Regions from separate parts of the Homo sapiens genome. Here region 1 is linked to region 2. Evidence: fine-mapped expression QTL. A gene starts in region 2. The other region holds a variant in brackets. All regions are shown on one strand. Distances are between the middles of the regions.

Region 1 (4,395 bases), 35 kb after region 2:
GTAAAACTTGAGATTTTGATATGAATAGTTTCATATATTGTGACAGGTTGGATTATTGGAAAAAAATTTTTAAAAGATAAGAATAAAAAAAGAGTTTCATATATTTTCCCAAACTTCAACAAATCGTTTGTTCATCAAAAATCTGAAAATATTTTATGTGCCAGGCACTGCTGTAGACCAGTGAATGAAATAAATCTCTTCCTTCACAGAGTTTACATTCTAAAAGGGTTTGAAGAATTTTCTTTCCAAATATATCTATATTTCAAATGCAGAATGACTCCCTAAAGGTGGAAAGATAGGCGTTCACCAGCAAGGGAAGAAGATGGTGTTTTCATAGCAAATTTTTCTGCTGTCCCTGAAATCATGCCATATAAGCAGTAATTTCCTCGGTGTTCTCTCAAGCCCATCTGTGTTCTGATTTCCTCTGCAGTTCTTTTTACTTCTATCTGGAGTTGGTGGAACAGCTTATAGAAGCCATTTATGATTGTTTCAAAATATATGCTCAGGCTTCTAAAATGGCCCTGGCATGAATAAGAGTAGCTGCTTTTCATAGGGTATACAGGGCAGAGAAGACAGATGAGATTCGTCATATTATACATACTTTTGGGTCTCACACATGAATCATGTAATTTAGCGAGGCCGTGACTTCAGTACCCTTCTAGGGTGTGTGCTCCTCAGTGATTATGCACTCATTCCAATGGAGTAGGAGGTCAGTCAGTAAAAGTATTTATTGAGCCAGATTCTCCTCTGCTTCTGAGTCATTTTCTGGTAGAGTGAAAAGGTTCTCTGGGAGAAGCTTTAACTCTTTCAGATTACAAGCATTACTCCCTTTGTGTAATGGGGTAGTTCTCTAAGTAATTATATGGGGTTTATGCTAATTCTTTACTTGATATTTTAGATAATTAGATATATCTAGTCTGATAGATGAAATCTGAGAAAATGTAGTATAAGAAGAAAAATAGTATCTAATTTGGCCGAAGGTTAAGGAATAGTTTTAATAACATAAACATCTAGATGGCTAAGAAGTTTGCAGGACATTATGTGTGGTGTTTTTTTTTTTAAGAAAATACTTAGGACACCACCCTTATGTGGAAATCTGACATCTGGCAACTTCAGTCCTCTGGAAGACAGCCAGAAAGTAAGAAAGGGGCCTCAGTGCACATGAAAATAACTGTTGAAAAACTCTACCACGAACATGTGTCCTTTCCCACCACAGTAGAGTTTGTTAGCCTCGCATTTAGAGCTTGTTTACTTTTATTTATCTAGGAACTTTACATAATTTTGGTAGTATGCGTGTGGTCTCCCCTCCATAGCAGATCATAAACAGCAATATAGCAAGGGCGTGGAAAAGTTGACAGAGGAGAGCAGAGGGTAGGCTGACGTTGAAAGAGAAAGGCCTAAAAGATAGACAGTGCTGGTATTGTGTATCACAGCTTAATACAGTAATGTGTAGTCTTAATAATGAACTTGGACCCATCAGCCAAAGAGTAAGTCATGTTCAAGGTCTTCTAATAAAGAAGTCAGGGAAGTCTGGAGTGTGTCTATTTTTAAACAATCAAAGTTAACCAGGTTTTGACATGTTGAAATGGTAAGCTCCGTAGAGTTTATATGTTTGAAATAGCACATTCTCTGATGATGCTATATCAGTGACACAAATTTGAGCTTGCAGTTGATTATGGAAATGATGCTTTGTAATAATGACTAATGTTTATTGAGCAGCTACTATACCAGCCCTGACCTAGGTGCTTTCACACTGTTAGCATACTGGTTAAGGCTTTGGAGACAGACAGATTTGGGTTCCCATTACACCTCTGACTTACTATGTGACCTTGGACAGCTATCATCTCTCTGATCCCGTGTCCCCACCTGCCAAATGGGAACCAATAACATATGATAGGGTCCTTGCGAGGACTCAGGGAAGTACATGGTAAATGCATGTACCTAGGAAGTACTCAATGAATGTTAGGCACTGTTATAACTATAATAGTCTTGATGGTTATTATGAAAGTATGATTATCTCCATTTTTCTGGATGAGGAAACTGAAGCCCAGAGAGTTTAAGTAAGATGTCCAAGGTGAAATCGCTAATAAATAGTGGAGCTGGCCTGTGGACCTGGGTCTCTCTGACTACAGAAGCCTAGTGCTTTACATTCATATATGCTGCCTCTGCAGCATGTAATTATAATTAGATTTTTTTTGGTAATACTTAGAGAAAATGTGTTAGTAGCATCTGTGGGAAATACCCACTTACCACTTCTCTTTTCCACTGTGGACTCAAGTCGTCTTATTATAGACAAAAAGTCTATAATAAGTAACACAAAGATAACCTACTTTTGCTTGACAGTACAAATTAAATAGGTAATGTTTGTGTAGCATGATTTATTAACATCTTCTAGGTACTCCATATTAATATACTAAATGATTTATTATATGCCTAATATGTTTATCCACATCAGTGTTTTCTTGGATATAATTTTTTTTTTTTTTGAGACATAGTTTTGCTCTTGTTGCCCAGGCTGGAGTGCAATGGTGCGATTTTGGCTCACTGCAACTCCGCCTCCTGGGTTGAAGTGATTCTCCTGCCTCAGCCTCCTGAGTAGCTGGGATTACAGGCATGCACCACCACGCCTGGCTAATTTTGTAATTTTA[A/G]TAGAGACGGGGTTTCTCCATGTTGGTCAGGCTGGTCTCGAGCTCCCTGACCTCAGGTGATCCACCCGCCTCAGCCTCCCAAAGTGCTGGGATTACAGGCATGAGCCACCGTGCCTGGCTGGATTATAAATTAACAGAGGTCAGGTATGGTGGCTTCTCCCTGTAACCCCCTGGCACTTTGGGAGGCCAAGGTGGGTGGCCCAGGAGTTTGAGACCAGCCTGGGCAACATAGTAAAACCCTGTCTCTACAAAAAGGTACAAAAAAAATTAGCTGGGCATGGTTATGCATACCTGTAGCCATATGTACCCAGGAGGCTGAGGTGGGAAGATTGCTTGAGCCCTGGATATCGAGGCTACGGTGAGCCACTGCTCTCCAGCCTGGGCCTCAGAATAGGACCCTGTCTCATAAATAAATAAAATTAACAGAGCTACCACTACCTTTTCTTTTTTTGTAATTAGGCACTTCATGCTTTTTGATGTGATGATGGTTGTATGTGAGATGGAAGGTAGAGTCCTCATTCATCTCTACCAAGACCAAATAAGTACTTGAGATGGTTGAAAATAGACTTGTACTTGGGAGGCTGAGGCAGGAGGATCACTTGAGCCCAGGAGTTCAAGGCTGCAGTGAGCTATTTTTGCACTCCAGCCTGGGCAACAGAGCAAGACCCCATCTCTAAAAAGAAAAGAAAAGAAAAACAGATTTCAGGCCTGGATACTCTGGTGATCTTCAGCTGCTCCTTTAAGAGACCTAGGGAGAAATGTAGCTGTCATCAAGGCTGATTGTCTACAGAGGGATGGATGTCCACTACTTATGTCCTCTCTTTCTGCTGCTTCAATACATACGTAGGTTCCCCAGCCACATGCATCAAGGTAATGGACACATCGTCTTATTACAGCACAGACACCGTAACAGTACAAGGATACTCCCCGGGGTTGGGCCACTGACTTCTGTGAACCAAAAACATATACTTGATCTGGCATAGGATGCTAAATCTTGTCTGGAGGTGCCATCTACATAGTCCTTTCTTCCTTTCTTACAGATTTTTACTTTTCTAACTTTTTTTTTTATAAAATAGAGGTGAAGTCGTGCTGTGTTGCCCACGTTGGTCTTGAACTCCTGACTGCAATTGATCCTCTAGCCTTAGTCTCCCGAAGTGCTAGGATTATAGGCATGAGCCATTCAATAGATTTTCCCTTTCCTTTTCCTTTTTCCTTTTCTGAGTCTCACTCCGTCACCCAGGCTGGAATGCAATGAATGGCATGATCTCGGCTCACTGCAACCTCGGCCTCCCAGGTTCAAGTGATTCTCCTGCCTCAGCCTCCCAAGTAGCTGGGATTACAGGCACCCGCCACTGTGCCTGACTGATTTTTGTGTTTTTAGTAGAGACGGGGTTTCACCATGTTGCCCAGGCTGGCCTCAAAACTCCTCACCTCAGGTGATCTGCCCGCCTTGGCCTCGCAAAGTGCTGGGATTACAGGTGCGAGCCACCGCGCCAGTCCCCAACAGGTTTTCCATCTAGGCCTTTGAGGCATAGTTCTGCTGCTGTTCTTCAGGTTGTGGTACATTTGTTTGCAGATAGTCTCAGTAGGTAGGAACCAGAATGCCCTCAGTTTGAGTTCTGGCCCTGCTGCTGTGAGCACTGTGATCTTGGACAAATAATGTTTTCTAACTATACTGAGCCTTAGTATCCTAATCTTTAAGATCTATAGGGAATAAAATGCCATATTTAAAATCTCTACTTTTTAA
Region 2 (4,395 bases):
GGAGCAGAAAACAGCAAGAAAACCTCATTTTGACCCCCTATGTTTCCATCTCCAACCTGACCAATCAGCACTCCCCACTTCTCAAGACCCCACCAGCCAAATTATCTTTAAAAACTCCACAAGGTCAGGAGATGGAGACAATCCTGGCTAACACGGTGATAGTCCGTTTCTACTACAAAAATACAAAAAAAAAATTAGCCAGGCGTGGTGGCGGGCGCCTGCAGTACCAGCTACTCGGGAGGCTGAGGCAGGAGAATGGCGGGAACCCAGAAGGCGGAGCTTGCAATGAGCCGAGATCACGCCGCTGCACTCAAGCCTGGGAGACGGAGCGAGACTCCGTCTCAAAAAAACAAACAAACAAAAAACTCCGATCCCCAGGCTGGGCGCAGTGGTTCATGCCTGTAATCCCAGTACTTTGGGAGGCCGAGGAGGGTGGATCACCTGAGGTCAGGAGTTCAAGCCCAGCCTGACCAACGTGGCGAAAAAAATAAATAAAACGAAATGCTTGATTTTTCATCTGAATTTCATATGGCATACTTGACTCCAAACAACTTTAGAAAGCTACATCCACAGAAAACAAAATTGTAGGAAACTGAATAATAAGTTATTTTTATTTTGGCTAATAACATTATCCAAAAATAAAGACAATAGATTTGCAATGTTAATTACTTTCTTGAGGAAAGAAAAGTCACTTGTTTTAAAATATTTATTTATTTATTTATTTATTTATTTATTTGAGACGGAGTCTCGCTGTGTCACCACGCTGGAGTGCAGTGGCGCGATCTCAGCTCACTGCAACCTCTACCTCCCGGGTTCAAGCGATTCTCCTGCCTCAGCCTCCCGAGTAGCTGGGACTACAGGCACCCACCACCATGACCAGCTAATTTTTTATTTTTAGTAGAGACAGGGTTTCACCATGTTGACCAGGATGGTCTCGTTCTCTTGACCTCGTGATCCGCCGAAAAGTCACAGTTTTACAGGCAAATGAAGCATTGCTAAGAATTTTAAAGACTCTCCGAACGTTGATATTTTACTACAAAATGTTCTCTTTACAGTGTTAACATGCTTCAAAAAGCAAAGGAAAAAAAAACAGTATGGTGGCTTCTCAAAAAATTAAACACAGAATTACCACATGATCCAGCAATTCTTCTGGATATATACCCAAAAGAATTGAAAGTAGGGACTCAGATATTTGTACACCCATGTTCATTGCAGCATTATTCACCATAGCCTAAAGGTACAAACAACCCAAATGTCCACAGAAAGATGGGATAAACCAAAGATGTTATATACGTACAATTGAGTATTATTCAGCCTTCAAAAGGAAGGATATTCTAACGCATGCTACAACATGGGTGAGCCTTGAAGACATTATGCTAGGTGAAAGAAGCCACTCACAAAAGGACAATATTGTATGATCCCACTTATATGAGGTATCCAGAGTAATCATAGAGACAGAAAGTAGAATGATGGTTACCAGGGGCTGGAGAATGAGGAGTTAGTGTTTAATGGGTACAGTTTCAGTTTGGGAAGATGAAAAAGTTCTGGAGCTGGATGGTGGTGATGGTTGCAGAACAATGTCAATGTACTTAATGCCACTGAACTGTACACTTAAAAAGGATTAAAATGGTAAATTTCATGTGATATATATTTAACCACAAGTTTTTAAAAAGCAAAGGGAAGGAGAAACATATACAGCATGGGATGAGATTTGTGAAATATTTATTTTTGTTGTGCATGCACAGTCATAGACTCGCCGCCTTCTTCAGAATCCTCTAGGTAGATTCCAGAAACGTGAGGCGCAGCAATTCCAGCAACATAGCCAAGCTGTGTAACTTCGTGGTCTTTAAACAAACAACGGGAATACTGCGGGGATTCAGAAACTGAGTCGGAGGAGGAGTTCTGACAGCCCTGCCCAGTTCTTGCTTCTGTCATTTCTTGCTCTCAAATTCTCAAAGATGTCCTGAGAGACTTTCCTCAGAAAAAAATGGGACAGATAGAGGCGAACCCCAGCGAGTATTGTGTGGCATAATAAGGGAAACTGCCTCGGGGTAGCAAAGAGGACAGCATCACACGCAGACAGGAATCGACTTGGACTTCTCTGAATGGAATTTTGACTTTTTTCTAGGTTGGAGGGTGGTGTCGGGAGTGGGGGAACAGCAAGAGTGGAGGAACTTGTCCGCAGCCGGGGCTGCACGTAGGACTGCGTGAGGCCGAGGCCCGACGAGCCGTGTCGGCGCGCTGCGGCGGGGGCGGGCCCCCGTGCCTCAGTTTCCCCGGTGGCCGTTCTGGGAGCGACGCCCCTCTGACGTCGCGAGGCGAGCAGGGCCGGGCCGGCCGCCAGGGGGCGCGAGCGCGGGGCGGGCGCCGGAGAGGTGGGCGCGCGGGCAGCGGAGCTTGGCGCCCCCGGGGCCGCGCGGACCGCGCCGGCAGAGGCGGAAGCCTGAGCGGGAGGCGGGGCGGCGCGCTGACTCACACGGGATCGACCCGCCCGCCGCTTCCAGGGGCGGAGGTGACAGCGGGCTGGGGACTGGCGGCTGCAACTGCCTGCCGCGCCGAGGGACCGCCGGGCGGCGGAAAGCAGGTCAGAGGCCGGGCCAGGCCGGAGCCGGGCGGGGGCCGGGCGGGGAGCGGGGGTCGCGGTCCGGGGCCGCGGGCGGAGGGGACCCGCACCCCGAGAGACGCGCCGCGCCGCGCCGCGCGGCTAGGCCTGTATCGGCCCTTTCCCAGCGGCGGCGCTGTGCTGCGCTCTGTGGGCCAGGAGCCCGCGAGGGACAGTGGGGCGCAGCGGGCCCCCTCGCACTCCTGTAGTCCCCGGGAGTTGGAGGGGTGGTCAGAGCAATGCGAACGTGGGCTTTTCAAGCGGTGTCAAGCCCAGGGCTCTTTCTCTGCACCGCCCTGCCACTCCGGCAATGAGGCGGAATTTTGAGAGCTGGAAAAAGAATTCTGCGTTAGTCCACCCCGCTGATTTTACAGATGTTCGGAGCCTTACGGCATAGGAGGCCGTGATTCTGTGTCAGGGAGACAGGGACAGATGGCTTCCGAAGCAAGGGTTAGACCTGTTCAGCTGGAGATGCAGCTTTGGTCATGGTGGAGTTTTGCAGAAACCCGCGGACACCCGCGTTCCTGCTGCAGGCACAGATGTCCACCGGGCATCTGTGTCTCAAAGGGTGGTGATGCTGTCACTTTAGTAAAGGAATATTGAGGTTACCAAACAGGCCGGGGCCTGATGCAGATGAGGAGTATAGACTTAAATTTTAAGTGCAAAAACAACTTTAAATGCAGTCTCATTATTACTGCCTGTCTCATTTGTACTGTAATGAAGGGTGAATATTTTTGGCACTCACTTATTCTGGAATATGGGTAACTTGCCTTTAGGTCTGTTTTATAGTAATTCTTTTACACAAACATGAAGATCTTGTATTAAAACACTTTCATAACTAATGATGCTGTAGTATGTGGCAGGCGAGTGGTAACGCTAATATTTAGGGTTTGAGCATAGTCTAGCTCTGCTTGTTTACATAGCTGAGTTAAACGGATGAGCAGGACTGATTAATCTGTAGTAGTTTTTGCAAGACTGAAGTACCTGACAGCATTCGGGGATCATTTCTCAGTTGGTGTTCCGTTTATTACTTTCACAGCATGAATACCGACACGGTGATCAGCAAGTTAGTTTATCCTCTACCCATTTTTCTCTAAAATATTGAATTAAAGGATCTCTAAGGTCCTCTTCTGTCTCGAGTTCTCCGATTTTACATGTTAACTTGAAACACGTCACTCATTGTGATAATAAAAATGTTTTAAGAAGAAAAGATTTTTAGAATTCTGCATAATGGGGCATAGCGAATCTTCAAATTCATTATTCTCAGCTCTCTCAGTCACTTTATCAGGGTTGGGCTAAAATAAGTGAAAAGTGACTTTTCAAATTGCAGATACTTACGTGTTAAATTCACTTAAATTCAGAGGCTGCAATGGAGTGATTTCTGGAGGGTGGAGAGTAGCTCAAGTCTGGCTTGGGAACGGGGTTCGTGCAGTGCACTGATAACTTTTGCAATAAGCCAAGAACAGTCTGACTCAGAGAATGTGATAAATTGACTTTTATACAGTGTTCATATTGTGTATTTTTTGGCTGAGATAATAATAATCTTCATAAACGATCTGTTTAAATATGCACCAGTTATTTATTTGTCTTGCAGCCCCAAGGCAGGGCATTTCCCTCAACGTTCCATCAATCTCTTCCTCTTTTCTGGCTCCTGACTTCAGGTGATCCGCCTGCCTCAGCCTCCCAAAATGCTGGGATTACAGGCGTGAGCCACCGAGCCTGGCTTTTGGCTTATTTTCTAGGTTTAGTATTCTGTTGTTTCTAGAGTCAGCTAATGGATTACCTACAACATG

What was found. PIP is the estimated chance that this variant, and not a neighbour inherited with it, causes the effect.
Region 1: its variant is the best candidate, but not a certain one, in a credible set for the expression of DNMBP in whole blood (TOPMed, PIP 0.57).

What each region holds. Positions count from the first base shown.
Region 1 is chr10:99,973,451-99,977,845 of GRCh38, reverse strand. All of the region lies in intron 1 of DNMBP (dynamin binding protein), which reads left to right. Among named protein-coding and RNA genes, the nearest start is that of DNMBP, 34 kb to the left of the region's middle. The variant A/G (reference allele first, on the strand shown) is at 2,649.
Region 2 is chr10:100,008,027-100,012,421 of GRCh38, reverse strand. DNMBP (dynamin binding protein) reads left to right here and starts at 2,475. Exons shown (of 17, transcript NM_015221.4): 1 at 2,475-2,584. RefSeq lists a silencer at 2,183-2,702.